Linked DNA regions of Homo sapiens. The gene in region 6 interacts genetically with the main gene of each other region. Each region holds a gene or a part of one and is shown on either strand. Other genes may lie near its edges.

Region 1 (3,477 bases), on a different chromosome or scaffold from region 6:
AGAGAAAGTAAAAGCACTTCACAAAAAAATGAAAATTCTAAGGACATACAAGAGCCATTGTTACGAGCAGCACCGCCCAGCCCTTCCTTGCCTACTGTCAGTGGCTTTGCCAAGATGGGAGGAGGCCAGTGCCCACTTGCCCACCGACCTGAGCCTGAGTAAGTGGCTGTCACCTGAGCCTGTTCTTTCTGTCCTGGTGTGGTGCTGCTCCCTCACCTCCAAAAGAGCAAAAGTACTTTCACCACAGTCAACCCAAAAGGGAAAGAATTTCTGTAATTGCCAACCCACTTTGTAGAAGAGGCATGAGCCCTTGAATTTCAGGCACCTTTTATCTAATGAGAGTTTTTACAGCTCATCATTCAAATAACGCACAAAAAACAAAAGCCGCTATGACCGGCGTTGCCTCTCACTTTGAAAGAAAGACTCCGTAATCTTAAACAGATGCAAATCCAATTAGGCGGCCAAGTAGGTGGAGACGAAGCACCTTCCTTTCCCCATCTCTGTCTGTGTAGACTCCACTTACATCTTGTGGTTATTCTGGGTTGTGGAAGGAAAATGTGAATGAAAGTAGTGCTGGATGCAATTACTCCTGAACCCCACCTAGGATTTAACATCCCTCATTGAGCCACTGGGAAGCTATGGTTGAGTAACTAAAGGTCTGGCAAGACCCTGGGCACACAGGGAGCTGCCTAGCATCTGGCCTGGAGTGTACTAGCCACATTCCCAAGGTCCCAAGGAGAAGGAAGAGCTGAAATTCATCTCCTAGTGACAGTGCCCCGGCCCTGTCAAGAATCACATACTCAGCATTTTGACAGTTAATGTCTTCTCTTTATTTGTGTAGTTTTTAGGTGGTTTTATATAACATTTTAATTACTTGTGATTTAGATGTATCCATCCTTTTTCTATTAAGAATACAAATGCTGGGCTGGGCACAGTGGCTCACGCCTGTAATCCCAACACCTTGGGAGGCCAAGGCAGGCAGATCACGACATCAGGAGATCGAGACCATCCTGGCTAACACGGTGAAACCCCGTCTCTACTAAAAATACAAAAAAAATTAGTCGGATGTGGTGGCAGGTGCCTGTAGTCCCAGCTACTCTGGAGGCTGAGGCAGGAGAATGGCGTGAACCCAGGAGGCGGAGCTTGCAGTGAGCAGAGATCACGCCACTGCACTCCAGCCTGGATGACAGAGCGAGACTCCGCCTCAAAAAAAGAATACAAATGCTCCAACATTATTTTTTATAACTCTGGATTACCGATGCTGAGATGTGTGCAGGAATACTTCCAAATAAATTTTTAACATTGTAAGCCAGTAGATTCTTTGGCTGGGTGGCAAATTTTGAGTCTTCTTGCATATTTGGCTCATGGGTTCATAAATTGAGGCCAGAGACTCATTGTATATCCTTGATCAATTTTCTAATTAAAGGAAATAGCTTATTGTTTAGTAAAATGGCCCTTGGTTGTGGGAAGAAAGAGAATTATTTTTAACTGAACGTTTTTGTTGTTTTTTAAATAAAGTAGCCATATGTAACGGGATTTTAAAAATATATACATTTTACAACATGGACTAGAAAAGGACCATTAGATCAGGGGTTGGCAAACTATGGCCCACGAATCAAACCTGGCCTGCCACCTGTTTTTATACAACCTGTGAGCTAAGAATGGTTTATATGTTTTCAAATGATTGGGCAGAAAATCAAAAGAAGAACAATATTTCATGACACCTGAAAATTCTATGAAATTCAGATTTCAGTGTCCATAAACAAAATGTTATTAGAGCATAGCCACACCCATTCATTTATGGTATTGTCTGGGACTGCTTTCTTGGCAGAGTTGAATAGTTGGGACAGGGACAGTATAGCCTGCAAAGCCTAAAAGATTTACTACTTGTCTCCTTAAAGAAAAAGTTTGCCAGCTCCTGATCTAGACCAAGAGGGAGATATTGACCTTACTTGCATTTATCCGGCATTATTTCAACACCTCCTGTGAAGAAAGTACTTTTCTGGCATAGCTACCGTGAGTTCTCAGCAGGAACTTCCCAGCGATGATAATGTACATGAAATTAGCCACGTAACAAGAGTCTATTTGCCTTGAAAAAACAATTATCCTTGAACTTCCTCCAGCTATGCAGGGATTCTCATTAAAGAGCTGATCTGCATCTGTTTATCCATTTTAGTAGCTTTTAAATATGATTTTATGTGAAGTGCCATTTCTTTATTCTACTAAAGAGAGACAGCAGAAATAAAGATCAGAAGCAAATGTGAGCAAATCTGTTTTACTGTTAACTTCAATTATGAACTTGAAATTGTGCCACATGACTTTTTCCTCTAAAAACTGGATCCTAGTGTTTTAATTACCTGTGTGCAGCTATTTTAAATAGCATTTTACTTGAATAATATGTATGTTGTCATTGTTTCATGCTATACTTTGTGGGATAAAACTTGGGAATGAGTGTGGTAAGAAATTTATAAAGTTTTGCTTTTAAAACGTGGACATAACTCATTTTTCTAGTTTTTGACAATTGTGTGTTTTAGTGTCTAGTCTGCAGAGAGCTGTGTGATTAATAAACGTGGAATTAACAGAATTTCCTCTCCCTGTATTAAGGTGTCTGGTTGTGCTTTTTTCCCCCTACTTGGTGATCTTTTGAGTTTTTATTGGATGATATTAGACCAGTTTGCATTTGTGTAAATAGCACTCCCTCCCCCAGAGAGCCGTAATCAGTGAGTGCCTTGGGGAAGGAGCCAGCATGTGAAATGATGTGCCCTAAAACCCAGAGAAGGGCCTGTCCATGGTGTGCGCTTATAGAATGTTTGCTAAGCTGAACTGAGAATTTACCTGGTTTGCAGAGGTGGCGGTCACAGAAAGGTGTATAGGCCAGCCGTCACAGATTGGCCTATCTCTCTCTCCTACACGCCCCACTGTTATGACTTCCTGGGCTCAAACAAGCCTCTCACCTCTGCCTCCTGAGTAGCTGGGACCACAGGCACCTGCTACCACACTCAGTTAATTTTTCTTTCATTTTTTGAACAGTCAGGGTCTCACTGTGTTGCCCAGACTGGTCTCAAACTCCTGGGTTCAAGCCACCCTCCCGCCTCAGCCTCCCAAAGTGCTGGGATTATGGGAGTGCACCATTGTAGCCAGCCCTCACCATAATTTAGAACACAGACAGCACTGCTGCCCAGTGGTTAGTGGACATTTTTGCAAATGTCGTCTCACATTTTACAATCACGTATTGCTCGACAACAGAGATATATTCTGAGAAATGCGTCATTAGGCAGTTTCGTCCTTGTACGAACACTGTAGAGTACTTACACAAACCTGGATGGTACAGCCTCCTACACAGCTAGGCTATACGGTCTAGCCTATTGCTCCTAGGGCTACAAACCTGCACAGCATGCTACTGTACTAAATACTGTAGGCAGTTGTAAGACAATGGCAAGTATTTATGTATATAAACATAGAAAAGGTACAGTAAAA
Region 2 (4,607 bases), on a different chromosome or scaffold from region 6:
GTTTCTTATACATTTTGGATACTAGCCCTTTTATCAGATATATGGTTTGCAAATATTCTCTTCCCCTCTGTAGGTTGCTTTTTCATTCTGATTATTTCCCTTGCTGTGCAGACACTTTTTAGTTTGACGTTGTCCAACTTGTTTGTTTTGCTTTTGTTGCCTGTGCTTTTGGTGTCACATCTAAAATATCATTGCTTTTTCCCTATGTTTTTTTTCTAGGAGTTTTACAGTTTCAGGTCCTGTGTTTAAGTCTTTAATCCATGGGTAGATGGCCAAAAGGACGAAGTCAGGATCTCAGAGAGGTATCTGTACCCCCGTGTTCACTGAAGCATTATTCATAATGGCCAAGATACGGAAACAACTCATGTGTCTACTGACAGAAGAATGGATCAAGAAAATGGAGTATATTCTGACCGGGCACGCTGGCTCACGCCTGTAATCCCATCAATTTAGGAGGCCAAGGCAGGTGAATCTCTTGAGGCCAGGAGTTCGAGACCAGCCTGGCCAATGTGGCAAAACCCTGTCTCTACTAAAAATACAAAAATTAGCCGGGCGTGGTGGCAGGCTCCTGTAATCCCAGCCACTAATCGGGAGGCTGAGGCACGAGAATCACTTGAACCAGGGAACCAGGGAGGTGGAGGTTGCAGTGAGCCAAGATGGTGCCACTGCACTCTAGCCTGGGCGACAGAGCGAGATTCTGCCTCAAGAAAAAAAAAAAAAAAAGAAAGAAAATATAGTGTATTCATACCATGAAACATTATTCCGCCTTAAAAAATAAGGAAACTTGCCATTTGTGCCAGCATGAGTAAACTGAGAAGACATACTGAGTGAATAAGCCCCTTACAGAAGGATGAATACTGCATGATTCCCCTTGTATCAGATATCTAAAGGTGCTAAAGTCATATAAGCAGAGAAAAGAACGGTGGTTGCCAGGGACGGGGCGGTGGAGGAGGGAGATGGAGAGTTGTTGTTCAATGGGTGTAATGTCTCAGTTATGTAAGATGTGTAAGTTCTACAGATCTGTTGGACAAACAGAAGTGCCTATAGTTAACAATACTGTATTGTACACTTAGAAACTTGTTAAGAGGGAATATCTCATGTTAAGTGTTCTTATAACAATAGCAACAAAAAAATCCCAAACCGCCCCCAAAACCAAAGAGGCACAATGATTAAACTCACGAAACTGTGAGCGTTAAATATGTACAGCTTTTGCTGATCAATTATACCTCAATAAAGCTATTTAAAACATACAAAGAACAGGTAGACTTCTTCTGGTGCCACCAGCTCTGTCATTAGCCGTGTGACCTTCGGCAAATCCCTTACCCTTTATGGGTTTCAGTTTTATCATTCTGAAAATAAGTAACAAGCCTCTACTACCACTGTGTACCCCTCATGCTGGAAGACTGTGACGTGGGGACCCTGCTGAAAAGCAAATCTTTCATGGGTAGATCTTAGCAGTGCAGCAAGGATTTTGGAGTGGACCAGAGATCAGAGGGATGAGAAACTCTGAATATGCAGCATTTATGATGCACCTGCTAGGTGCAGGATGGCGAGAAAGCCTGACACGGGCCTGCTGATGGCAAGGTAACCAACACCCCCAGCCTGCATGTGGGAGGGAGGCAGAGGGGCCCAGAGGATGGGAGTAACTGAAAAGGTGATGGGGCTGGGCGCGGCCTGTCATCCCAGAACTGAGAGGCCGAGGTGGGTGGATCGCTGAGGCAGGCAGATTCCTTGAGGCCAGGAATCAAGACCAGCCTGGCCAACATGATGAAACCCTGTCTGTACTAAAAATCACACCTGTCATCCCAGAACTTTGAGCGGCCGAGTTGATTGGATCACTTGAGCCCAGGGGTTTGAGACCAGCCTGGTTAACATGGTAAAACCCTATCTCTACTAAAAACACAAAAATCAGCCAGGTGTGGTGGTGCATGCCCGTAATATCAGGTACTCAGGAGGCTGAGGCACAAGGATTGCTTGAACCTGGGAGGCAGAGGTTGCAGTGAGCCAAGATTGCACCACTGCACTCCAGCCTGGGCAACAGAGCGAGACTCTGTCTCAGAAAAAAAAAAAAAAAAAAAAAAAAAGAGAAAGAAAAGGAGCTGGCCCAAAGCTGGGTGGTGATGAGCCTCCTCTTGGGCCTTTGATGGCAGCAACGCCTCTCTGACCTCCTGGGGATCCACCTTGCCCCACGGAGAGGACACCTGGGGGCATTTCTTCTATGTATTCCTCCTGCTGGCCCTGGCCTTTAACACTGGGCTCTGCTCTCAGTTCTCAGTTTAGATTTGGCCCTGAACTCGAGATTTCTGACATCCCTTGGGGGCAGCTCCAAGCACCCGCCGTGTGTGATGCCTGGGACTCACTTGGCCTCTTTGCTGTTGCTGGTGTCCTCTCCTGTTTCAGGCTCATGAGATCATTCCCTATCCTCCCATCGTTCATGGCCCCTCGTGTTCAACTTAGAATGAATGCCTCGGGTGGACAAATACAGTGGAAAAATGAGGTTGAAACAGCCAGAGCTTTGAAACGCAGAGGGTTTGACAGTGGCACCGGGGACTGGTATTCTGGAAGGCACATAGGGTGGCCAACGTTTAATTCCAAAGCCAAGGTGAAAAGGTTCAACTAACATGCAGTGTGATCCTTGCCTCCACAGAGGCGTCGGGGGTCTGAGCTTAGAGGGGAAGGTGGCTCAATCACCCACCTCTCCAGGACAGAAGCCACTGCTCAGTTTGAGCAGGGCGGGTGGGTAAAGTGTAGGTACAGGAAAAACAGCCCAGTTGTCAATTTCCCCCATCAAGCGCAAATGCAACAATGAAGGTGCACAAACACTTCTCTACTTACTGGCATAGTTTTGTCTCCAAAGAAATAAATGGTCTTATAACCGTCATTTTCCACATGTCGCAGACAGTATCTCTTGTCCCATCCATCAGGAAAGACATCAAAGCTGATCTGGCCTCCTGCCGGGTGGGGACGGGGCACACAAAGGCAAAAGGTGAAAAAGGGGCTAATGATATGTCACTGAAAAAAACAATTTACTCTTTTGTCAGTTAGTGGGTTGCCAAGGTTGATTTTCAGTACTCTAGTTTGCTACTTAGACTACTTCATGCATAGGTTCTAGAAATTAATTCTACATTGTTTTTTTCCAGCATTATTTCACATAGGTCTAAAATTGAGGCACAGAATGCCAACTCAGAGTGAGAAATGCATTTGCGTTTAAGCGCCCTGTCAAGCGTGTGGTTTAAAGGAAGCATGCTTATGAAAAATCGGATACCAGCCTCATTCTGCTGTGCTTGTCTCGGGCTTTAACACACCCTCAGGGGGAAATGCCCGGAAGCAGGTTGCATCCGGCATATTTTGCGGGAAAAATGAGAATCTTCACTGAAGGTGATTTACAGGCAGTGCTCACGGGCAACAAAAACCCTTTCAAAGCTTTGTCAGAAAGATGTCCATCTCACAGTTCAGGAAGACAAAAAACCCACCCACTCATCTGTTAAATATAATCCCTTTGCCATTCCAGTTTTCCTACAACCTCTACCTTGATGAAAGCTAGTAAAATGAGGAGGCTTTGAGCAATGACTCATTAGCACTGACAAGAGAAATCGGTGTGCAAAGCATTTGGCAGGAATATTCTAACAAAAGACAAGCCTGAGATGTCCGTGCTGCAGGAAGAACTCTGCATTAGACACCAGAAACGTTCACACACTGGCTGTGTAAACAACAGCTTTGTGAACTTGGACAAGTCTCTTCTCCTTTCTGGGCCTCAGTTTCTTGATCTGTAAAAGCCACCCAATTGGCCCCTAAGGTTCCTTGCTGTTGAAACATTCTATGATTCCAAAACATCGGTCTAGTTTACCTAAGGGGTTCAATTCCATGTCTCCCTTATGGAGTTCACTATAGTGCTTCTCTTCTGCCCAAAGGTGTGAGAAGTTCCTACTCTTTAGTAATCAAAGTGCTCCTCTTTTGATGAGAGGAGTCCAGGTAGGAAGAATGCTGTTGGGTAAGAATTTAGAACCAAGCCCAACAGCGTGTAAGCTGTTTCTTGACTAGGCAAGTCCTATTATGGCTAATTATGCAGAAAAGAGAGTGGTTGGTTTTTGTCTATAGACTGGACTGCTCATTTAATCTTCCTGCCCACCTAAAACTGCACATACTTCATTATCAATAGCTCACTGGCCCACAACAAACTCTGGGAAATGGGTATCCAAGTTTGGAACACAGGCAATATATACAATACCTATGGAAAACGTGAGGCCTTTTCCAGCAAACTCTTTCCGTAGATCTGCTACAAACTTTTGTCTTATATTTTCTTTCTGAGAAAAACAAAAAGATACCAATTGTTTCTTGTATTGCAGTTTAGAAAGCACAGTTTTAACTACTGGCCACAAAGGTAGGATTATCTTATTGATTTATTTATTTGTTTAGTTTTTGAGATGGGGGTCTTGCTCTGTTGCCCAGGCTGGAGCGCAGTGGCATGATCATAGCTCACAGCAGCTTCAACCTCCCAGGCACAAGTGATCCTCTTACCTCAGCCAAACAAATAGCCGGGACCACAGGTGTGTGCCACCATGCCCAGCTAATTTTTTTTTTTATTATTTGTAGAGATGAGGTCTCAC
Region 3 (4,607 bases), on a different chromosome or scaffold from region 6:
AGTTTGCGAAAGAAAAATAACTTGGTCAAAATCACACACCTAGCAAGTGGCTGAGGCATATTTACTCCCTGTACCATGTTTTCACTATACCAACCTGACTCCTCAACCAAATATAATGCATAAAAATTTTAATTCACATCACACTAAGGCCAACCAAGACACCCTACCTGCCAAATAAAAATTTTATAATGCCTGACAATATCAATCAGATGTCAAAACAAATATAAAATTAAGAAAAAACTATAAATGTTAATTGGCATAATAGAAACATGAATCCCTAACTTCAAAAACTACAAACTTTCAAAGAATAATTTGGAAGATACTTTGATGTCTACTTTCATACAAACATATTTTCATACAAACATTGATCATTAATTCTAATGTGAGTCTGATGCTGATAAATACCTAAAGCAAAAAATTTCCCTCTATGTATTATCACTGAACTTATTTATGGCATGACATAACTTAAGACTCACCTGCAGGACTGTCAGCATTCTCTCCTGGATGTAGCTGTATACCAGCAGAATCTATAGAGTTCACTGTAACTGTTTGTAGATTTGGCAACTGACCAGTGCTTAGACTAACTGGAGTTGAAGTGAAGGCTCCACCTGCCGCAACTTGACCAAGTGTGAGGGTTTGAACAGGCGTCAAAGTTATTTGTTGGGCAGCAGTATTCTGTATTTGCAAATTCTGCAAGTTCTGGACCCCTTGTACTTGAAACGTTTGCCAAGTTACCTGTCCAGAAGGGGTCACTGTCTGTGCCTGAATTAAAAAGGTTCCAGGATTCAGCTGCAACTGAAGATTTTGCAAAGCCTGTTGTGATATATTTTGACCACTGGCTTGCACACCATGGATTGTCTGTGGTGTAATACCTTGCACAATTTGGGCTTGACTGGTTGGCTGCTGAGACTCTTGAAGTTGTAGATGCTGTACAACAGGCTGTGCTGTAGAAACCTGAATATTCTGTGCCTGTGTCTCTTCAGAAACAGGCGACTGGATATAATTTCCCTGAAGATCTGAAGAATGAACCTGCCCACTAGATGTAGTCAAGCTATTTGTGTTTTGTTGTAATATACCTGTACTATCTATCGTAACAGGCAACTGTGATGAAGAGGATGTTGGCACAAATAAATCTGTATCAGTATTAGTTTCATTAATATCAGGAGAAACCCGCTCACCAGTCCTTTCTGAATTGTCTGAACTATCCATAGCTTGTCCTGTGTTTATCAAATGTCCGTCGGCATTAATGCCTGCAGTCATTGTCTGAGAACTGCCCGAGAGTCCCAAAGAATCTAGATCGACACTATTGATTGGTACAAACGTAATATTTCCTGGCAGACCAAGAGGCACATTAGCAACTACTTGGGTTTGACCAGGAAAAGATGAACCACCAATTGCAACTCCCTGAACCTGGACTTGACCAGTCTGTGGTATGAGATTCTGGATGTTAGCAGAAGGTGTTCCAGAGGCAAGTAAGGTTTGATTAGAGCCAGGAATGATCTGAATTTGACTGCTTTCTTGATTTATACCCCCATTATCTGAAGAGCCTGTGAAACCAATTTGAACCTGCTGACCATCTGCTGACTGGATCTGTGGTATCACTTGATATTGAACACTGGACACTGTACCATTTGATGAATCTGATCCTGGTGCAACGGAAAATATTTGTTGATTCTGCAAATTCTGAAGGGGAAGAACATACTGCCCACTTGAAGTAGCAGCACTTGGAATCTGGACTAGATTACCAGCTTCATCTTTTATAGTTGTAGGTGTGGCTGACAAAACCTCCCATCGGTTTGGTGCTCCTCCTAACTGTGCAGAAGCCAAATCACCTGTCTGGATGAAGAAAACAAAAAGGTGATATATTTGTGGTATATTTAAATCAACCCTCAAAAAATTCTAAAAACTGGTATAAATCCTACTACCTGAAAATTCAACTTATCTTAAAACACAATGGAGTTCAAATACAGGAGCAGTACTATATGAACTACAATAATTATCACTTCCAGTTTTGTTACTGCAAAGACAATTCATCCTATTTGAGTGGGATAAAAAAAATTCTCGGAATGTTCATCACAACCACAGACCAATTTTCTAATCCTGCATCTATGATCTCTAACACTACACAGTTAAAACACAAAACAAAACAGTGGAGATGGCTATGACCAAATCAGGTGCATTATATTTGTGTATAAAAAGGAAACATAAGCATAGTGTATTAAGTCATCCGACTTAGAAAAGATTTATTGCTATAAGCCTAAAATCAAACAATGAAATCTACTCTTTTGTGGCATCTATTAACATACTCTAAAGTAAACTCATGGCTAGGGCTATTCCATTAAGCTATCAAACTCTACTTTTTCCATGAACTAATGAAAAACAAAGACCTTAAAAAAACTTAATGAGAAAAAGTCATTGCCCTGTGACCACATGACAACGTAGCCCCATTTGAAAGGTTTCTCTAGGATCAGAAGCTGGAGGATACACACTGTGACTTTACTTACTAGTCTAAGTTTTCAGTAGAATGTCTGGCATATACCTTTTGTATTCTGGTGTATTAATACAATTTGAGGGAGAGAAAGATAATCTAGGGTTTCATTATATTCTCAATGGGAATCTCAATGGGACCATAAAAATCAGTTGAGACATACACAGTTCTCTCAACATAAACCATTCTATAAAACTTAATGCAAATATGATAAACAAAAAAATCTTAAGTTTCTTAAAGAAACTCACTACCTAATTTTCATGAAGACATAGTTGAGAAATATATACAGTTATTTCAGTGGATGAACCACAGTTAAATGACTGAATTCAAACATTTGAACGTAATTTACCAAGATGAAATACACACGTGAGTAAACCCATGACATACAATCCCAATCTTCAAACGGTTCACTGTCAATCCAAGCAGACATACACACATCCATGCTAATACAATGTGAAAAGTAGCACAGACTAGTCATATGATCAAAACACTCTGTGGAAGACACAAGATTGAAAAAAAAGATTTCATACAGAGATAAAGTAGTATTAGAATATAAGATTTTCCTGTAGTCAGTTAAAAAAGAGGCACTAATAAAAGCATAGAAACAATAAAATCACAAAAAGAAACCCTAAATAATAATATGCAGTTTGGAGTTGAAGAAAAGATCCCAAAAAGGCTCATATTCATAGAGGAAAGTAATGGGGAACAGGACTAGATATTTTTATCAACGCTTGTAAATGGCTTCACAGATCCCACTAAATTGTTTAGACTTTATCCTGTAGATAGTGAGTGAAAGCTATAAAAGGTTTATAAGCAAGTGAGTGGTGCAATCACATCTGTGTCTTATAAAGATAAACTAAGGCTCAATGAAGGAGACTGAAAGAAAGGGAGGAGACTAAAGGCTGAGAAATTGTGGAACCCAATACAAATCTCTAGGCCTGAACTATAAAATAGCGATCTGTCTTAAATACACTTAAATTATATTTACTAAACAATTTTAAAATGAAGCATCAGACATTAAAGTCACATGTCACTCTGCAACTTCAATCTGGTATAGAAATTACAATGTTAAGTCACCTTTCCTAACATTACAGTGACAAATGTTTCATTTCGGTCTCTTGGCATTTTAAGTAAACTACAAATATTTAAATCTATATACTAAAATCTACACTAAAGTGTGTCTAAAATCTAACCTTTATCTTCTTAAGGTTATTGCTCACCTGGAGGATCCACTGAAATTTTTTCTGACCAGCATAAAATTTACAGGTATTGAACTTTTATCAAAGAATATAGTAACTCAGACACAAATTAATTTTATGATACTGGCATTTTGTCCCTTTTCCTTTCTTTAAAAAAAACAAAGTCAAATTTACAGCACCTAAAGTGTTTTTTTTTTTTTTTTACAAAATAGTAATAAAGGCAGATATTCAACCATCACTGAACAGCTTTCTAGTCAAGAAATTCCTTGAAAATAAATACAGCTAACGCAAATGACAAATCTGAGTAAATATTGCCCAAGTCATCCCCTCTCCAGAAGCTAGATAAAAATAAACTGTAGTGCCATTTTTCTCAGCAATTCAGGCCATTAATTGAAGGAAAATCTCTAAACCTAGAGCAAAGTGATGTATTCCGAACTTTTCTGAATAAGCCTGAAATGAAAAGCATTATTAAAATACCTGTGAAGCACAACGATGGGGGAAAAAAAAAAAAAGCAACAGGTAATTTAAGGAAAAGAATCAAGCAAGAAAAGGAACTTTTTTAATTTAATAAATTTGCAGTTTTAAAAAAATTTGCTGAATACCCTATTTTCTAAATGGAATGGAAAAAACACATTGAATCAGAAAACTACTAGATGATTTATGCCAAAACTACACTCGACAATATATTACACAAGAAAAAAAAAAAAGCTCAGAACTGAGTTCTAGTTCTGGCTACACTGTGGAATTGTGTGAGTTACAGCAACTCAATTTTCTCATGTCAACAACCGGAAAAACATTACCTTGCAGGGGCATAAGAATCAGAAGAAAAATATTAAATTTTATAAACTATTGAGCACTGTGCAATCCCAAGATCATTGTGAGTGCTAAGATTATGAGAATAGATTTGAAAAACATCCATT
Region 4 (4,607 bases), on a different chromosome or scaffold from region 6:
ATGATAAGCAAGTATTCTCATTTAGAATTTGGGAATATTGATTATACATGTGGACAAACAAACCATAAATGCAAACTATTTATATGATAAATAACTTTGGACTGATGGCTGGGAGGAAGGACCAGCTATTGATGGGTAGGAACTAGCAAGTAGCGGACTGTGGCCTGCATAGACCAGACCCATCCGTAGTGATCCAGATGAAACAGCCACCCTCAGACACTTGGATAAAGGGTCCACCAGGAAAAAACTCCTGGCCTATCAGGTGCTATGTTACAGTTCAGTTACTGGAAGTATTTCCTCAAAAGTGTTTTTATGGTTGAGGTACACATTCCTACAGCTTTACCTGCTGCCAAGTCCCTGTTTCAAGGGAAGCAGCAATGAATTACACTGTTCCCGTAGTCAAGGACAGTATATCTTACCAAGAACTATACCCACTTAAGGAGGTGCTGGATGTCATAAAGATTTGGATCAACCATTATGGGTGTTCAGAGGAGAGATTATTTCCAGCTCAAGACCCAGGGAAGAGGACATAGGATGGATACCAGAGTCATAGGGAGGATTTAACACAGGACATGTACACATTAGTTAGTTGGGTATAAAGTGGAACAGAAATGAATGAGACACAAAGCCTTGAATGCCAGAAATACTAGTAGTCCTGTTGTGGAAGGATATAAAACTCAACTGGGAGTGGAAGAGAAAGGCAGCAGTGAGTCTAGGAGATGTACAGTAGGTTGAGGTAAACATATCCTGAAGACTATAATCCAAAGATTATTTTTGGTTTGAATTTGTTTTGGTTTGAATTCATGGTATCTATTTTCTTTGAGTGGATGGTTGGGGAGGGTGGCATGTAGAATGCATTCTTACCAAATCAGCATGATTTTCAAGACAGTACAGAGAAAAGACTGCTGAGCTGATGTAGGAGCTTTGGCTGCAGTCTCTATGGCTTTCAGCAAGCCGTTTAACCTTACTACTGCTTCATGACTGTGGCTAACAAAGTAGGGATAGTACGGAGCACAGAGGATTTTTAGGGCGGTGAAACTATTAATACTCTCTTTGTATGATACTATAATGGTGGGTACATGTCATTATACATTTGCCCAACCCCACAGAATACACAGCACCAAGAGTGAACCCTAATGTGAACTCTGGTCTTTGATGATGCTATGTCAGTGTACGTTCATCCGTGTAACAAGTGTACCACTCTAGTGGTGGGAGGGGTTATTGATAATAGGGGAGGATGTGCATGTGTGGGGGCAGGAAGTATATGGGAAATCTCTCTACTTCTGCTCAATTTTGCTGTAAACCTAAAACCTCTGTAAAAAATAAAGTCTATTTTTTAAAAAGTGGGGATGGTATTACGGCAATATAAAATCAAAATACTTTATGAACAAATCTTTTCTCCAGATGTAAACTGTCATATATGCACCCTCGTATGTGTATGTATAATTTTCATTCAAACGTGAAACAACTTTAGAATTGGCACCAAACATATAAACACTGATACATTAGACTATCTCGAACACCTTTTACTGACCACTTTGAAAACTTGCTTACCTATTAAGGTTCATTCATAGCTGTGATGTTCTATTTTTATTTTCAATGTGGGATTATCTTCTGTTTCCCCCAGGGAGTATATTACCAAATTGGTGATGTTGTTTCTGTGATTGATGAACAAGATGGAAAGCCCTACTATGCTCAAATCAGAGGTTTTATCCAGGACCAGTATTGCGAGAAGAGTGCAGCACTGACGTGGCTCATTCCTACCCTCTCTAGCCCCAGAGACCAATTTGATCCCGCCTCCTATATCATAGGTAAGTTTGACAAATGGCACAGGTTTTTTTTTAACTTAGTTAACTCTCCAATATTATGTAAAAGAGTGTGTTAGTCAGCTTGGGCTGTCAGGACAAAATATCACAGACTGAGTGGCTTAAACAACAGAAAGTCACTTTCTCACAGTTGTGGAGGCTGAAGTCCAACATCAAGGTGCTGGCAACACGGATTTCTGGGGAGGCTTTTCTTCCTGGCATATAGATGGTCACCTTCTTGCTGTGTCCTCACATGGCCTTTCATGGAGTGAGAGCTCTTTGGTGTATCTTCTTATAAGGACACCATTTCTGTCAGATGAGGGCCCCACCCTTATGGTTTCATTTAACCTTAATTGCCTCCCTAAAGGTCTCATCTCCAAGTACCATCACATTGGGGATTAGGGCTTCAACATATAAATTTGGAGGGTGGCGGGGGGGGATGCAATTCAGTCCATAACAAAAAAAGCATGAGTATTATTAAGTACAAAAAAATTAGAGAGCTTTATAGAAAATATGAGGCATTTTATGTAGCTGGAGTGTGAGTGCTATCAGTTATTTTGAGTTAGAGCAATGTGCATCTACTAAGAAGTGGTATGGATAAGATTTTTTTGGAGTGACCCAGGGTTAAACTGTACTACAAGAATGTATTGCTCAGGAACTAGGTTATTTAGGTTACTTATTTATACAAACCTATTCAAAAATAATTTAGGAAAGAACTATCCCAGTTATCCCATACTTGCAAATTCTCAATATGTGTGCCTCTGCATGCTACACATGTCATCTTAGGCCTTTATAGTATAAAGGCTGATAGTTGAAATGGCAGCTGCTGTGCTTTTGTTAATTTCAAAGCTGCCAAAACAGTTGTGAGATAGACTCACAAGAATTTACTGATTAATACAATTTTTAAAGTTTTCAGATTTTTACAGTTACTTCAGACTTTTTATCTTTCTGCAGTGAGCATGCATCATTACTTTTGCATCCTGAGAACAAGCATAAGTGTGTTTTTGGAGAGAACTCCAGGGACAAATAATATACCACTGTTATTCTCACCTATATGTCAAGTTTGATACATTACCAAACAATTCTAGCCTTCTGCTTATAAGTATATAGAATTTTTATTTACCTTATCTATGGATCAGGATCTCAGCAGAGGCAGTGATGTATCAGAATCACCTTCGGGATTCCTCTACTGCCTCCTCTTTCTAATCCCCAGATTCTGATATGCATCCTTGTCCTACAGCGAGGCAGCATGGCATGAGGTCAGAACACCAGTTCTGGAGCCAGACTGTCTAGGTTCACAGCCTGCCATTTACCGGCCATGTGACTTTGGCAAGTTTCTTAGTCTCTCTTGCCTCACTTTCCTCATATGTAAAATGGGAATAATAATAGTGCCTACCTCAGAAGGTTGATGTGAGGAATGAAGGTATTGATACATGTAAACTTAGAGCAGTGTGGGTACAAAATAAACATGATGCAAGTGTTCAATCACTGTTTTTGGGAGAATGCCATATTCTTTAAGCCGTTAAAGAAGAAAAAATGATTAAGAATAATTTCAAAGTAATGCATGTTTCAAGGGCTAATGCCAGGTTGCTCCCAGAGTGGTCTCTCCCAGTGTCTAGAAATTTTAACATCTTATGAAAATGATATATATGGTCAAAAATGTATTTAACCTTTCCCTTGGCTGCCTTCCAGGGCCAGAGGAAGATCTTCCAAGGAAGATGGAATACTTGGAATTTGTTTGTCATGCACCTTCTGAGTATTTCAAGTCACGGTCATCACCATTTCCCACAGTTCCCACCAGACCAGAGAAGGGCTACATATGGACTCATGTTGGGCCTACTCCTGCAATAACAATTAAGGAATCAGTTGCCAACCATTTGTAGTTCACAAATTAAAACTGGGTTTCCAGGCCTGGTGTGGTGGCTCACGCCTGTAGCCCCAGCTATTGCACCACTGCTCTCCAAGCTGGGCAATGGAGTCAGATTCTCTTTCTTAAAAAACCACAAAAAAACTGGATTTCCAGTTCTCTAATATTCTTAGTACCACAAGATATGTCATAGGTATCTTTAAATGAAATTCTTAGCTGGAAAAGTGACTAAAAAGTTTTTCTCCTGCTACCTAGTAATAAACAAATCATTGTTTATTACTGGTCACTTAGAAAATTAAAAGGGATAGGGCCAGGCACAGTGGCTTATGCCTGTAATTGCAGCACTTTTAGAGGCCGAGGCAGGCGGATCACCTGAGGTCGGGAAGTGGATCGCCTGAGGTCAGGAGTTCGAGACCAGCCTGGCCAACATGGCGAAACCCCGTCGCTACTAAAAATACAAAAATTAGCCAGGTGTGGTGGCATGTGCCTGTAATCCCAGCTATTTGGGAGGCTGAGGCAGGAGAATCGCCTAAACCCAGGAGGTGGAGGTTGTAGTGAGCCAAGATTGCACCGCTGTGCTCCAGCCTGGGCAACAGAGTGAGACTCTTGTCTCGGAAAAAAAAAAAAAAAAAAAAGGCTGGGCACAGTGGCTCACGCCTTTAATCCCAGCACTTTGGGAGGCTGAGGCAGATGGATCGCCTGAGGTTGGGAGTTCGAGACCAGCCTGGCCAGCATGGTGAAACCCTGTCTCTACTAAAAATACAAAAATTAGCCAGGTGTGGTGGCGCACACCTGTAGTCCCAGCTACTCGGGAGGCTGAGGCAGGAGAATTGGTTGAACCCAGGAGGCGGAGGTTGCAGTGAGCAGAGATCGTGCCACTGCACTCCAGCCTGGGTGGACAGAGCAAGACTCCGTCTCAAAGAAACAAACAAAAA
Region 5 (4,607 bases), on a different chromosome or scaffold from region 6:
GTTACTGAAGTGGTAACTACAGGAGGTAGGAAGTAGATTTAGAGGATTCTAAGGTTTTTCCATCTCTAAAGCTTATATGATTCTGTACTCAGTTGTTTTTTTTTTTTTTAAATGGAAATGGATTCATCATTCTATTGGGGAGGTATCTTCATCTCTTTGATTCATTGCCTACTTGATTTGGAATTGAGAGGGGTGGGGTGTTTGGGAAAGCAAGCTGAAAACATTGTGATTTCTAGGTATTTATGCTGGAAGAGTTTTTTTGTTTGTTTGTTTGTTTGTTTGTTTTTGAGACGAAGTCTTGCTCTGTCGCCCAGGCTGGAGTGCAGTGGCTTGATCTTGGCTCACTGTGACCTCTGGCACCCGGGTTTTAAGCGATTCTCCTGCCTCAGCCTCCGAAGTAGCTGGGATTACAGGCACTTGCCACCATGCCCAGCTAATTTTTGTATATTTAGTAGAGACAGGGTTTCAGCATCTTGGCCAGGCTGGTCTTGAACTCCTGACCTTGTGATCCACCCGTCTCGGCCTCTCAAAGTGCTGGGATTACAGGTGTGAATCACCATGCCCGGCTAGAAGAGCTTTATGTTCATGATGCTGAGATGAAGTTGGGGCCAGAAGAAGAGTCAGTTGATAAAAGCTAAAGTATTTTTAGATCCTGATTAAAGAAGAAGGTAATGGGTTGACTTGAGAGAGAATGAGCGTTCTGTTATGGGAATGCTCATATGGGAAATGTTCTGTCTCTTTGTCAAAAACTGCAGGACCACCTGTTGGTGACATTGGAGGAATTCCTGCTTTGTGTGGGAGGGTGAACTAGATGCCTTTAAAAAAAATTTCCCCCCCACAGACTTGTTTTAGATATTTTACTGCTTCAGAGAGGGTCATGTTCACACCATTCTCCCCTTTTGTAATTTTTCACACCTCCCTGGCTCCCCTTTTATAATTTAGAAAGAGGTTTAGAAGTCTGTAACTTTTTGTATTAGATTTACTTTGAGAAATCTTGTACTTAATTTAGTAGGTCACAGAGGGTTGCTGAATGACTGGAAACTTGTGTTTCTTTTCCATTAAGGGCTATTTGCTGACTTCTGAAATATTGATGATTTATTTGACTTTAGAATTTTGCATACTGAGGGGAAAGCATCTTAATGTATCATTTAAAGCAGGAGATACTTTCATACTATACCTGGGTTCTCTTGGCTTTGAAGAGGAGGGTGGTCATGAGATATTGAAAGATTGCATGGGTGGCTTGTAATCCCAGCACTTTGGGAGGCTGAGGCGGGTGGATCATCTGGGGTTAGGAGTTCAAGACCAGCCTGGCCAACACGGGGAAACCACATCTCTACTAAAAATACAAAAATTAGCCAAGTATGGTGGCGCATGCCTGTAATCCCAGCTACTCAGGAGGCAGGAGAATCACTTGAACCCAGGAGGTGGAGGTTGCAGTGAGCCAAGATCGTGCCAGTGCACTCCAGCCTGGGCAACAAAGCGAGACCTTCCCAAAAAAGGAGGACTTCATGGGTAGATATGAGCAATGGTGAGAAGCACCTGGAATATGTCATGGAAGTCCGTGAGATAGTCATGAATGCCATTCTTTCAGCAAATATTCATGGAGTATGCCTACCAGATATGAGGTACTGTTTTAGATGCTGGGTGTAGTCAGAGTCTCTGCCCTCAAGAAATGTGTCACTTATACGATATTTATTATCATTGACTTAATATAGTGACTTAAGGGTAAAGTGCTTTGATGGCAAACTTGAGCTTGAGCAAGCATCAAAACATGGTGGATTTTGTCACTGAGTGGTTTGGCTGTATGGCTAAAGAACCTTGTTTTATTTTATTTTAGTTTTAGTTTTAGTTTTGGAGACAGAGTCTCACTCTATTCCCCAGGCTGGAGTGCAATGGCATGATCTTGGTTCACTGCAACCTCTGCCTCCCGGGTTCAAGCCATTCGCAGGCCTCAGCCTCCCGAGTAACTGGGATTACAGGCACCTGCCACCACACCCAGCTAATTTTTGTCTTTTTAGTAGAGACGGGGTTTCCCCATGTTGGCCAGGCTGGCCTTGAACTCCTGACCTCAGGTGATCCACCTGCCTGGGCCTCCCAAAGTGCTGGGATTACAGGCGTGGGCTACTACGCCTGGCCAAGAACCTTGTTTTAAAAATAGGAAGATTTTTGTCGTCTGGAATTTAGTATCTCAGAGAATAATTCTGTTTGTTTCTCAGTGAGGTTAGTTTGTGCAGTAATATGAAATGTGATCTTGTTTGGTTATTCAGGAGAAGACCTTAAAAATAGAAGTAACCTTAATTGGTAGACATTTCTAATTGGTAGACTTCAGTTTTAATTTTCAGGACACTTGAAATTGACAGCATCAGTGACAAGTTACCTTGGCTCTTGCCCTTAATCCCAGTATTTTAGGAGACCGAGGCAGGAGGATTGGTTGAGCCCCAGGAGTTTGAGACCAGCCAGGGCAACATAGTGAGAGCTCATCTCTACAAGAAAAAATTAGCCAGGTGTGGTGGTGCACGCCTGTGGCCCCAGCTATTCAGGTGGCTTAGGTGGGAGAATTGCTGGAGCCTGGGAGGTTGAGGCTGCAGTGAGCGGAAATTGTGCCACTGGACTCCAGCCTGGGTGACAGAGCTGAGACTCTGTCTCAAAAAAAAAAAAAAATCATAATCCTCATTCATCAAGCATTTATTGATGACTGGTATATACAAGGCACTGCTGTCTATTGTGGCGGATGTGAAGTGTATTTAACACTCCTGTCTTTAAAGAGTTTGGCTTTGTGTGTGTGTGTGTGTGTGTGTGTGTGTGTGTGTGTGTTTGGAACAGGGTCTCACTGTGTCACCTAGGCTGGAGGGCAGTGGCACAATCATAGCTCACTGCAGCTTCAACCTCCTGGGCTCAAGTGATCCTCCCGCCTCAGCCTCCTGAGTAATTGGGACTACAGGCATGTGCCACTGTGCCTGGATAATTTTTAAAAAATTTTTTGTAGGCCAGGCGCGGTGGCTCACGCTTGTAATCCCTGCACTTTGGGAGGCCGAGGCGGGCGGATCACGAGGTCAGGAGTTTGAGACCGTCCTGGCTAACACAGCGACACCCCCTCTCTACTAAAAATACAAAAAAATTTAGCTGGGTGTGGTGGCGGGTGCCTGTAGTCGCAGCTACTCGGAAGGCTGAGGCAGGAGAATACTTGAACCCGGGAGGTGGCGCTTGCAGTGAGCTGAGATCGTGCCACTGCACTCCAGCCTGGGCGACAGAGTGAGACTCTCTCAAAACAAAACAAACAAACAAAAAATACATACATAAATACATTTTTTTCTTTTGTAGAGACTGGGTCTTGCTGTGTTGCCTAGTCTGACCTTGAACTCCTGGGCTCAAGTGATGCTTTTGCCTTGTGCTCCCAAAGTGCTGGGATTACAGATGTGAGCCATTGTTCCCGGCTGATTTTGTATTTATCATTATAATACAAAGTAGAGGATATGTGCTCTGCATGTGGCATAGCAATGTAAGTATCAAGTGGAATTAAGGAGTAAAGGTGAAGTGGAAAAGTATTTCTCTGCCTAGTAGAAGAATATTGCATTGGGTTTCAAATAGATAATTTGCCCTAAAATGTTGTGTGCAGATCATATTTTTTATAAATTTTTAAATTTGTTGCCTTGTATTTCTAATTTCAGAAATGCTTTATTTTTATTTCTGATTGAGCGTAAGATGTCCACTGCTCTTTTAGCATTTTTCTCAACTTTTCAGCTTCTCTGCCAGTTGGTAATTTGTAAATTGAGAAATATTTTGTGTCATCAATTCTATTTTATTTATTTATTTATTTGAGACGGAGTCTCACTCTGTCGCCCAGGCTGGAGTGCAGTGGCTCGATCTCAGCACACTGCAACCTCTGCCTCCTGGGTTCAAGCAGTTCTCTGCCTCAGACTCCAGAGTGGCTGGGACTGCAGGCACATGCCACCACGCCCGGCTAATTTTTGTATTTTTTAGTAGAGATGGGGTTTCACTGTATTGGCCAGGCTGGTCTCTTAACTCCTCACCTCGTGATCCACCCGCCTTGGCCTCCCAAAGTGCTGGGATTACAGGCATGAGCCACCGCACCCAGACGTCGATTCTATTTTGTAGTAGATTTTTAAAAAGTAGATATATTATTCTAAAAACATGCCAAATCAGTTTGTGTTACAGCTTATCTTGCTTTGTATCAATAGGAAAATAGCTTAAATATATAGGTTTTATAAGAAAGAAGCAAGAATCATTCATGAGGAAGGAATTTATAAGGATTTTATATTTACAAAGTAAGAATCAGGCCTGGCATAGGATTACATCACGCCTGTAATCCTAGCACGTTGGGAGGCTGAGGTGGGAGGATTTCTTGAGGCTAGGAGTTGGAAACAAGCCTGGACAACATAGTGAGACCCCATCTCTACAAAAATTAAAAATTAGCTGAGTGTGGTGGTGTGCGCCTGTAGTCCCAGCTACTCGGGGCCGAGGTAAGAGGATTGCTTGAGCCCAGGGTGGGGAGGTCGAGGCTGCACTGTGATTGAGCCACTGCACTCCAGCCTCAGCGACAGAATGAGACCATCTCAAAAAAAAGTAAGAATAATTCAGTAAGAGGG
Region 6 (4,607 bases):
GCAGCACTGTGGAGAAGAGACTCCCTTCAATAAACAACCATGTAATTTTAGGACACCAGAGACAAAGACAATATCCAGAATCAAAATTGCATCATGCTTCTCAATAGTAGCCACAAAACTATAATTTATTAGAGCAAGGCCTCCAAAATTATCCTCAACCTTGAATTCTCTACCCAGCCAAACTATCAGTTAAGTTTAGAGGTAGGACAAAGTCAGTTTTAGATGTACACGTTCTTTAAAAATTCACCTATGCATGCTTTATTAGACAGCTGTTGGAAGATGTGCTGTACTAGAACAAAGAAGTCAACTCAGATAAAAGAAGATCTGGGATACAGAAAACAAGGACCCCAATACAAAAGCAAAGTGAAGAGAATCCTTGGAATGATACCAAAGGAAGATTCAAAGAGAACATACATGCATCAAGTCTAGACAGCAACTGCTGTCTAGATTTTCCAAAATTGAAAAAAAAAAATACCCACTTAATATGTAGAATGTATTAAAATAAGACTTATATTGATGGAGAAGAGAGTTTGATTGAATTAGTCATATGTATATAGAGCACTGAGAAAATGAAGAGAATTTTTATCTATTAGGTTTAAGGTTATAGGGAAGCTGTACCTGAAAAGACACTATAGTATACCACTTAGCTATGATTAGCACTTGCATTGTCATGTTTTAAACAGTAAATAGTTATCTAAAAAAAAGTCATGATATAACAATTCTGGAATGATAAGGGACCATGAAGGGGGTCTGTGTGTGTGTGTGTGTGTGTGTGTGTGTGTGTGTGTGTGTGTGTTAGAGAGAGAGAGAGATACGTGAAGGTATGGTGTAATGGGAAGTCCATAGGTAATGCCAAACCTGAAAAATCAAGAAGTAACAATATAACCAAAGCTATGTGGTTATAACATTTAAAATTATAAAATAACCAGCTAAAATAGTTAAATTGAAATGTATCACCTCTGGAGATCAAGACATAGAATAAACTAAAATATGCACATGTATAACTTTACTAAAATTAAAAATGGAATTAAAAACAAAGTAATAGCTATGGGACAAAATAGTTACAGATGCTATTCTCTTATAATAAAAGTTGCATATGTATTATCTAATGACCCATTTTAGAAATTATTAGGTTGTATAACTTGATATCGGCCCTTCATGTCATTTTCGAAACTTACAAAGTTGTCTCTTTGAAAAAAACATCAGTTTGGTTGATTTTGAATAGGACTTGGATAGTTAAAGGAATCACTGTTGAATGAAAATCTATGAAAAATATTTGTCAATATGGTGGTATACTCTTCAAGCTCCTCCAAGAAGCAAAATCTGTTTGTGAGTTGCTGAAACTTTACTATCTTCCTTTCTATTCCTGTCCATCACACTGCCACAGACAGCACTGTCTGGAGATGTGGAATCAAGACTGATAAAGGCCAGTAGGGAAAGCAACTAAGATTCTCCAGACCTGAACATATTGGAGGGAAAGATAGCTTATGAGGCCCTTGGATCTTTTTATTGTCCTCTTTATACTGGGAAGTTTGTGACCGTTTTTAAAGAGGGATGCCTCTTTAGCCTCCCCTATAACCTGGCCCTGTTCCAGTTCTGCAAAAACATGCCTTCTTTGGGTTCAGTTAGTGATACTGGTAAGAGTTGAACCTCTAATTGTAATGAGATCCCTTGAAGCTCAAAAGACCTTAAGACACGAAGTTATGAATTAATAACGAAAAAATCTTCATTATAGCATTTTGATCAGAGGAAGAATCACAGCCCCCTTCCTTTTTTTTTTTTTTTTTCTTTGATATAGGATCTTGTTCTATCACCCAGGCTGGAGTGCAGAGGCATAGTCATGGCTCTCTGCAGCCTTGATCTCCTGGGTTCAATTGATACTCTACCTCAGCCTCCTGAGTAGCTGGGACTACAGGCATGTGCCACCATGCACCACTAATTTTTCTATTATTTGCAGAGATGGGGTTTTGCCATGTTGTCCAAGCTAGTCTTGACTTCCTGGGCAAGTGATTCGCCCACCTTGGCCCTGCAAGGTCCTGGGATTATAGGCGTGAGCCATAGCACCCGGCTCACTTTCCCTTCTTATCACAGATTGAAGGACTACGTTGAAGGCTGGCCACTGCTCTGACCACTGCCTGCACCATAGAAGTGTTTTTTCCTACCTGACAACTTGATTATAATTTTCTCCAGTCTGCAGTGATTTTTAGGACAGCAGAGTTCAAGCATTTATTGCCCATATTAATGAAACCTATACTCTAACATCTAGCCGATACCTCTGCTAGAGAAAACTTTCTACCTATACCTAACCCCTGTCTCACCCTCCTGAAGTACACTCTCACCTGACTTCTACTTATCCTTCCATTTTCAGCTTGTCATTTTCTCTCAGAATCTGGGATAGATGCCCCATTATAGGCTTATCATTATAATTAAGCAGCTGATAACAAAGCAGTATGCTGATTGCCCATCTCTCTCTTTGGTCTATAAGACTTGTAGAGGCAGGAAAAAGCATCTATTTGTTTTTTCACTATTGGCCTTCTTGGACCGAATATAGTTCCTAGACCTGGCATCAGAGGGACTCAATAAATATTTGTTAACTTGAGTGGATTTGCTATTGTCTCTACTTCTTAAAATGTAGTCTTATATTCTCTATCACATTGTGACTGCATATGGATAAGAGGGTATGGATATAGACATCTTTCCTAAGTCTATACCATCTATATAGTACATTAGTTTCTATCTGAATGGCACAGAGTAATTATGGCAATTGCTAGTCTCCACCCCAAATGGGAATGTTAAAATCTGCAAAGTGCTTGGCTTTCTTAGACGTGAAGTTCTTGGAATCCATTAACAAATAAATGCATCTTCATTTTATAATATAGTAGGTCTAGAGATGATGAGACAACATCTAATATACTTGAGGATTGTATTAGATGAATGGCAAGTCATTTGGCACACTAAAATGCTCTTAATGTGATTTGTTTACAATCTTTCTGTTTTATTGCAGCCGGGGATCTGACAACAGACTGGCTCACCGGCGGCAGACAGTTCTCCGTGAGAAGGGGAGAAGGTTAGCTAATCGAGGACCAGCATACATGTTTAGTGATCGCTCCACAAGCCTATCTATAGAGGAGGAACGCTTTTTGGATGCAGCTGAATATGGTAACATCCCAGTGGTGCGGAAGATGTTAGAAGAATGCCACTCACTCAACGTTAACTGTGTGGATTACATGGGCCAGAATGCCCTACAGTTGGCAGTGGCCAATGAGCATCTGGAAATTACAGAACTTCTTCTCAAGAAAGAAAACCTCTCTCGAGTTGGGGATGCTTTGCTTCTAGCTATTAGTAAAGGTTATGTTCGGATTGTGGAAGCAATTCTCAGTCATCCGGCTTTTGCTGAAGGCAAGAGGTTAGCAACCAGCCCTAGCCAGTCTGAACTCCAGCAAGATGATTTTTATGCCTATGATGAAGATGGGACACGGTTCTCCCATGATGTGACTCCAATCATTCTGGCTGCCCACTGCCAGGAATATGAAATTGTGCATACCCTCCTGCGGAAGGGTGCTAGGATTGAACGGCCTCATGATTATTTCTGCAAGTGCAATGACTGCAACCAGAAACAGAAGCATGACTCGTTTAGCCACTCCAGATCTAGGATTAATGCCTATAAAGGCCTGGCAAGTCCGGCTTACCTGTCATTGTCTAGTGAAGATCCAGTCATGACGGCTTTAGAACTTAGCAATGAACTGGCAGTTCTGGCCAATATTGAGAAAGAGTTCAAGGTAGGTCACTAACAATAGAGACTTCACCCTCCACAAGCCAGAGTCAAGGTGTATTTACCAGCTTCCCCCATGTGCTCAGCACTGTGCTAGTTACTGTGGACACTAGGTCATTTTATAAGTTTATTCAACAAGCTCTTTATTATAATCATTGTAGCAAAAGTTGTGATCGCTACCATTTAGTGATGCTCTACTGTCTGCCAGACATTTTGCATTTATTATATCTAATCTTTATCCGTTCCCCTTGAGAAGCTATTATTAGTTCCTGTCTAGATGGGTAAATGAAGGCATAGAAAGTTTCGCTAATGCCCAATATCAACAAATGGGAAATAACACAGCTGGGTTCAGAATCCAGGTATACTGCACTCTGAAAAGCCCAGGCTTTTTCCTCCCACGAAACACTATTTCCATGTTCAGAGCACAGTGATAGATGCTGTTGAGGTCAGAAAGAAGAATAAGCTTAAGGAAGTCACAGTTGACTAGAGAGACAAATGCACACATGAATAAAAAATAAACAAAACTACCAGGTAGAGGTAAAAGCAACATACTGTAGAAGTTCAGAGAAAACAATATTTAATTCCTGTTAGGCTGCAGGGAAGTATGTGTAAGATGGCATTTCAGCTGTATATGGTGGAACAAGTAGGATTTTGGAAGGCAGAGAATGAGGGAAAAGATATTTTAGGCCAAGGTGTACCAGCAAAAACAAAACATGATAGATATGAAATAGTAGGAAATTAGAACTTTGACCAGTCAATCTCTTAATAAGAGGTATCTGGAGAGATAAATGGTGTCAGATGCTGCCATTAACCATAAGGGCTGTGCTCCACGTGG
Region 7 (4,607 bases), on a different chromosome or scaffold from region 6:
GGCAGGCAGATCATTTGAGGTCAGGAGTTCGAGACCAGCCTGACCAACATGGTGAAACCCCGTCTCTACTAAAAATAGAAAACAGCCGAGCATGGTGGCCCACGCCTGTAATCTCAGCTACTAGGGAGGCTAAGGCAGGAGAATGCTTGAACCCGGAAGGCAGAGGTTGCAGCGAGCTGAGATTGTGCCACTATACTCCAGCCTGGGAGACATGGCGAGACTCCGTCTCAAAAAACAAAACAAAACAAAACAAACAAAAAACATATGAGACAGATGAGTGCATAAGCAAAATATGGTTTATCGATACAATGGAATAGTATTCAGCCATGTAAAGGAGTGAAATCTGATGCACGCTACAACATGGATGAACCTTGAAAACATCATGCTAAGTGAAAGAAGCCAGACCCCAAACGACAAATACTATGTGATTCCACCCATGTGAGGTACCCAGAGCGGCAAGTTCATAGAGACAGAAAGTAGCTGGGAGGGTACCAGGGGCTGGAATGGGGAGGTAATGGAGAGTTATTGCTTGATGGTTAGTTTCTGTTTGGATGATGAAAAAGTTTTGGAAATAGGCAACAGTAATAGTTGCACAACAGCGTGAATGTAATTAATGCCAGTGAATTAACCACTTAAAAATGGTTGCAATGGCCAATTTCATTATATATATTTTACCATATTTTTTTTTTTTTTTTGAGATGGAGTCTCGCTCTGTTGCCCAGGCTGGAGTGCAGTAGCACGAACTTGGCTCACTGCAAGCTCCGCCTCCTGGGTTCACGCCATTCTCCTGCCTCAGCCTCCTGAGTAGCTAGGACTGCAGGTGCCCGCCACCACACCTGGCTAATTTTTTTTGTATTTTTTAGTAGAGACGGGGTTTCACCGTGTTAGCCAGGATGGTCTTGATATCCTGACCTCATGATCCGCCCACCTCAGCCTCCCAAAGTGCTGGGATTACAGGCATGAGCCACTGCGCCCAGCCTATTTTTTTTTTTTTTTTTTTTTTTTGAGACAGCATCTCGTTCTGTTGCCCAGGCTGGAGTGCAGTGGCACGATCTCAGCTCACTGCAACCCCCACCTCCCGGGTTCAAGTGATTTCCGGCTAATTGTTGTATTTTTAGTAGAGATGGGGTTTCACCATGTTGGCCAGGCTGGTCTCGAACTCCTGACTTCAAGTGATCCACTCGCCTCGGCCTCCCAAAGTGCTAGGATTACAGGCGTGAGCCACAGCACCCGGCCTATTTTACCATAATTTTTAAAGTTTAATGATATAATATGCTGGAAACCATTGTATACTTTTTTTTTTTTTCTGAGACAGGGTCTTGCTCTGTAGCCAGGCTGGGGTGCAGTGGCACAATAATGGCTCACTGCAGCAGCCTCAAACTCTTGGGCTCAAACAATCCACCTACCTCAGCCTCCCGAGGAGCTGGGACTACAGACTTGCACTACCAGGCCTGAATAATTTTTAAATTTTTTTGTAGAGTTGGGGTCACACTATGATGCCCAGGCTGGTCTCAAACTCCTGGCCTCAAGTGATTCAACAGCCTCTGCCTCCCAAAGTGCTCCGCACTGTGTACTTTCAATGGATAAATTATAAGGTATGTGAATGAATATCTCAAAAATGCTGTTAAAGAAGCAGACAGCCAGGTCGGCACCCGGTGGGGCTGAAATGTGGTGGAAGTTGGGGGAGTCTGACCCCAAAGGGCTGTGTGTGGCCACAACAGGCACAAGCACATGGAGCCTGGTTTAGGCCTGGCCCATAGTGGGTGCTCAGTAAATGATCACAAAGAAGGAAACTGAGGCAGGGCTCTGGGGAAGTGAGTTAGTGCCCCGGGTGGAAAGAGGCACCCACGTGTTCTGATCCATCTGTCCCCTTAGTCCCATGGCCTCCAGGGGGTACCTTCCCCAGACCAGGACAGCGGCACCTCCCGCCCAATTCAGTGTTGTCAGCTGGGGCTCAGACACCTTCCCAAGCTGCCCGCTTATCTCAGCCTCAGAGAGGGGTCAGGCGTGCTGAGGAAAGGGCAGGCCCAGTTTCTCAACTTCCACCTGCAGCCCGGGCGGTTTGGGGCGTGGATGGTCTGGGGCCTGAGCAGTTCTGTAAGGGTAGCCAAGACCAGGGACCAGAAACTACCTCATGTCAGAGCTGGAAGGGGCCCCAAATCCCACCCTTTTCACAGGTGCACCACTGAGCTCAGAGAGGACAAGCCCTGTGTGCTGAAGATAGTGCAGGTCGCCCCCAGGCAGGGATGGATATAGAGGCTGTGCAGTGGAGACAGGCGCCAGGGCAGCTGGCAGGGAGGGTGGGAGTTCTGTCCAGGCGTGTCCCGGAGGGGTGGCATGCAGGCAGGGCAGGGTGTGTGTGGGGTGTATGCATAGGTGGGGAGTGTGTGTGTGCGTGAGACAGTGTGTGTGTATGAGTGTGAGTGAATGTGTGTGAGTGTGTGCGTGTGAGTGTGTGTGTGCGTACAGGGTTCATGGGTGGAGAGGGTGGAAGGTGGGCCAGCCAGGGGGAAATAGGCGGCTCGCACTCGGGAGGTGCACACAGGGCTCCACAGGAATGCGAGTCATGCAGGGAACTGCTACAGCCAGCAGCTGTGGCCAAGGCCGAGCAGGGAGTAGAGAAAGAGCGTTTCCAGGTGGCCGGGGCTGTGAGGCTCTAGGAGAGGACACACAATGGCGAGGGGTCCCAAAGACCCTCCCACCCTAATCCTTTAGCCAGCAGGCAGCCTCCACACCTCAGGCACCAAGCATGTCCCCCGTGACCCAGCTGGCTGCCACACCCAGGGCTGGAGCCTGGCGGGGGCTCGGTGCCAGAGTCCATAACATTCCTTGGAGAATCAACAAAGTCAGGAAAGGCAGGCGGTGCTTCCCTTGGCCCCGGGTGGGACACAGCAAGTGGGGGTGGCAGCACCCTTTTCTCTGGGGCCAGAACAGGCATGAAACCTGGTTGGGTGCGGAAGTCAGGGTAGGGGACAGGGAAAGATGTGAGGGGGACCACAGGGCCTGGCAGAGCCAGCCCCCTAGTCCCACCTGGCATGCCCCTGCTTAGACTGGAGGGCCACCCAGCTTACCCACCACCCAGGCCAGGCACCTGCCAGGGCTGGGGGTTGTTCTGAAGACCCTCACCTGCCAAGTCACCCACAGCAGTCCCACTCACCCTGCGGAAGACATCCCAGGCAGGCCATGGGCCGAGCCCTCTCGCTCAGGGGCACTTGGTAGTGTGTGTAGGCTGGGGAGGCAAGGGGGCAGGATTCTGCCCACTCAGGCCTCTGCCCATGGGGAGGATGAGGGGCAGGGGCGGAGCATCAGGGCACAGGCACACACGGGGCTGTGGGGACACAGGGTGGCCAGAGAAAATCCAGGACACCCGTTAAATGTGAAATTCAGATAAAGAATAATTTTTTAGTATAAATACATTCCATATTCCGCATTTAGCGGAATTCCAAACTTAACCGGGTGTTCTGTATTTTATTTGGCAGCCCTGTGAGGACGCTCCTGGGGGCTGGCAGGGCCCCCATGGGAGAGGAGCGGCCAGGAGGCCCCCTGCAGGTATCAGCTTCTCTATCAGTCACTGTGTGACAAGCACGGACTCTGGGCCACACTGCCTGGGTTCAAATTTTCTCTCAGCTACTTCCCAGCTTTGAACCCTAGGCAAGTTACCAAATCTCTCTGAGTCTTAGTTTCCTCATCTGTAAGAGAAGGCTACTGGTACCACCTACCTCATATTAGTGTGAGCATTACATGAGATAATATGCGAAAAGCGCCTGGGACAGTGACAAAATTGTTCATTAGTATTCATCAGGCTAGCCAAGAATGGTGGCTTACACCTGTAATCCCAGCACTTTGGGAATCCAAGGCAGGAGGATTCTTTTAGCCCAGGAGTTCAAGACCAGCCTGGACAACACAGTGAGACCCCAACTCTACAAAAAACAGAAACAAAATTAGCTGGATGTGGTGGTACCCAGTCTCCCAGTCTCCTGAGTCCCAGCTACTTGGGAGACTGAGGTGGGAGGATCACTTGAGGTCAGGAATTTGAGGTTGCAGTGAGCCATGATCATGCCACTGCACTCCAGCCTGGGTGACAGAATGAGACCCTGTCTCATAAACAACTAACAACAACAGCAACAACAAAAAGTATTCACTGGGAGCCATCATGGAAAACTAGGCTCTGGCAGCAGGCAGGCATGTGGCCTTGGGCGGTGATTTCACCCCTCCGCCTTGAGCTTCCCGTCTGTAATGTGACATGAGGACAGCACCTCCCGCACAGGGATGCCTGAGGATTAAGCAGGATCAGGTCTGATGCAAGCTCAGCACAGTGCCTCACGCATGGCGGGTGCTCACTGGGCTCTAGCGCTCCTCTCTCTTCAATGATTCCCTGCAAGTCCGCAGCCCAGCCCAGGAGCGGGGGACTGGAGGGGGGACAAAGGACTCCCACTCACTGTGGGGGTGTTTTCTTCCTCCTTCCCCGCTCATCTGGGTCTCCCTAGTGTGGCCCTAAAGGATTTTCCTTCCTCAGGCCCCTCTAAGCCACTCCCTGCCCTAGTCCCTTGACCTGATTTGATATAAAATCTATTCTCTGTTAGGCTAAGGGGTGTGGTGATGGCAGG

The links.
Region 1: changes in TRPC6 (region 6) and ALDH5A1 together harm fitness less than expected from each alone (positive genetic interaction), as found in Homo sapiens cells (one large-scale study listed by BioGRID).
Region 2: changes in TRPC6 (region 6) and PMM2 together harm fitness less than expected from each alone (positive genetic interaction), as found in Homo sapiens cells (one large-scale study listed by BioGRID).
Region 3: changes in TRPC6 (region 6) and SP3 together harm fitness less than expected from each alone (positive genetic interaction), as found in Homo sapiens cells (one large-scale study listed by BioGRID).
Region 4: changes in TRPC6 (region 6) and GATAD1 together harm fitness less than expected from each alone (positive genetic interaction), as found in Homo sapiens cells (one large-scale study listed by BioGRID).
Region 5: changes in TRPC6 (region 6) and WDR20 together harm fitness less than expected from each alone (positive genetic interaction), as found in Homo sapiens cells (one large-scale study listed by BioGRID).
Region 7: changes in TRPC6 (region 6) and PLCD3 together harm fitness less than expected from each alone (positive genetic interaction), as found in Homo sapiens cells (one large-scale study listed by BioGRID).

Annotation. Positions count from the first base shown.
Region 1 is NC_000006.12:24,534,609-24,538,085, forward strand, and holds the end of ALDH5A1 (succinate-semialdehyde dehydrogenase, mitochondrial isoform 2 precursor), read left to right. Parts: 3' UTR 1-2,599; downstream 2,600-3,477. UniProt on the Homo sapiens protein: Catalyzes one step in the degradation of the inhibitory neurotransmitter gamma-aminobutyric acid (GABA).
Region 2 is NC_000016.10:8,811,335-8,815,941, reverse strand, and holds part of PMM2 (phosphomannomutase 2), read right to left. Parts: intron 4,305-4,607; coding exon 4,229-4,304; intron 2,952-4,228; coding exon 2,836-2,951; intron 1-2,835. UniProt on the Homo sapiens protein: Involved in the synthesis of the GDP-mannose and dolichol-phosphate-mannose required for a number of critical mannosyl transfer reactions.
Region 3 is NC_000002.12:173,954,397-173,959,003, forward strand, and holds part of SP3 (transcription factor Sp3), read right to left. Parts: intron 1,837-4,607; coding exon 477-1,836; intron 1-476. UniProt on the Homo sapiens protein: Transcriptional factor that can act as an activator or repressor depending on isoform and/or post-translational modifications. Binds to GT and GC boxes promoter elements. Competes with SP1 for the GC-box promoters.
Region 4 is NC_000007.14:92,452,875-92,457,481, forward strand, and holds part of GATAD1 (GATA zinc finger domain-containing protein 1), read left to right. Parts: intron 1-1,627; coding exon 1,628-1,811; intron 1,812-3,497; coding exon 3,498-3,688; 3' UTR 3,689-4,607. UniProt on the Homo sapiens protein: Component of some chromatin complex recruited to chromatin sites methylated 'Lys-4' of histone H3 (H3K4me), with a preference for trimethylated form (H3K4me3).
Region 5 is NC_000014.9:102,145,895-102,150,501, forward strand, and holds part of WDR20 (WD repeat-containing protein 20), read left to right. Parts: intron 1-4,607. UniProt on the Homo sapiens protein: Regulator of deubiquitinating complexes. Activates deubiquitinating activity of complexes containing USP12. Anchors at the base of the ubiquitin-contacting loop of USP12 and remotely modulates the catalytic center of the enzyme.
Region 6 is NC_000011.10:101,503,196-101,507,802, reverse strand, and holds part of TRPC6 (short transient receptor potential channel 6), read left to right. Parts: intron 1-3,004; coding exon 3,005-3,779; intron 3,780-4,607. UniProt on the Homo sapiens protein: Forms a receptor-activated non-selective calcium permeant cation channel. Probably is operated by a phosphatidylinositol second messenger system activated by receptor tyrosine kinases or G-protein coupled receptors.
Region 7 is NC_000017.11:45,125,367-45,129,973, forward strand, and holds part of PLCD3 (1-phosphatidylinositol 4,5-bisphosphate phosphodiesterase delta-3), read right to left. Parts: intron 1-4,607. UniProt on the Homo sapiens protein: Hydrolyzes the phosphatidylinositol 4,5-bisphosphate (PIP2) to generate 2 second messenger molecules diacylglycerol (DAG) and inositol 1,4,5-trisphosphate (IP3).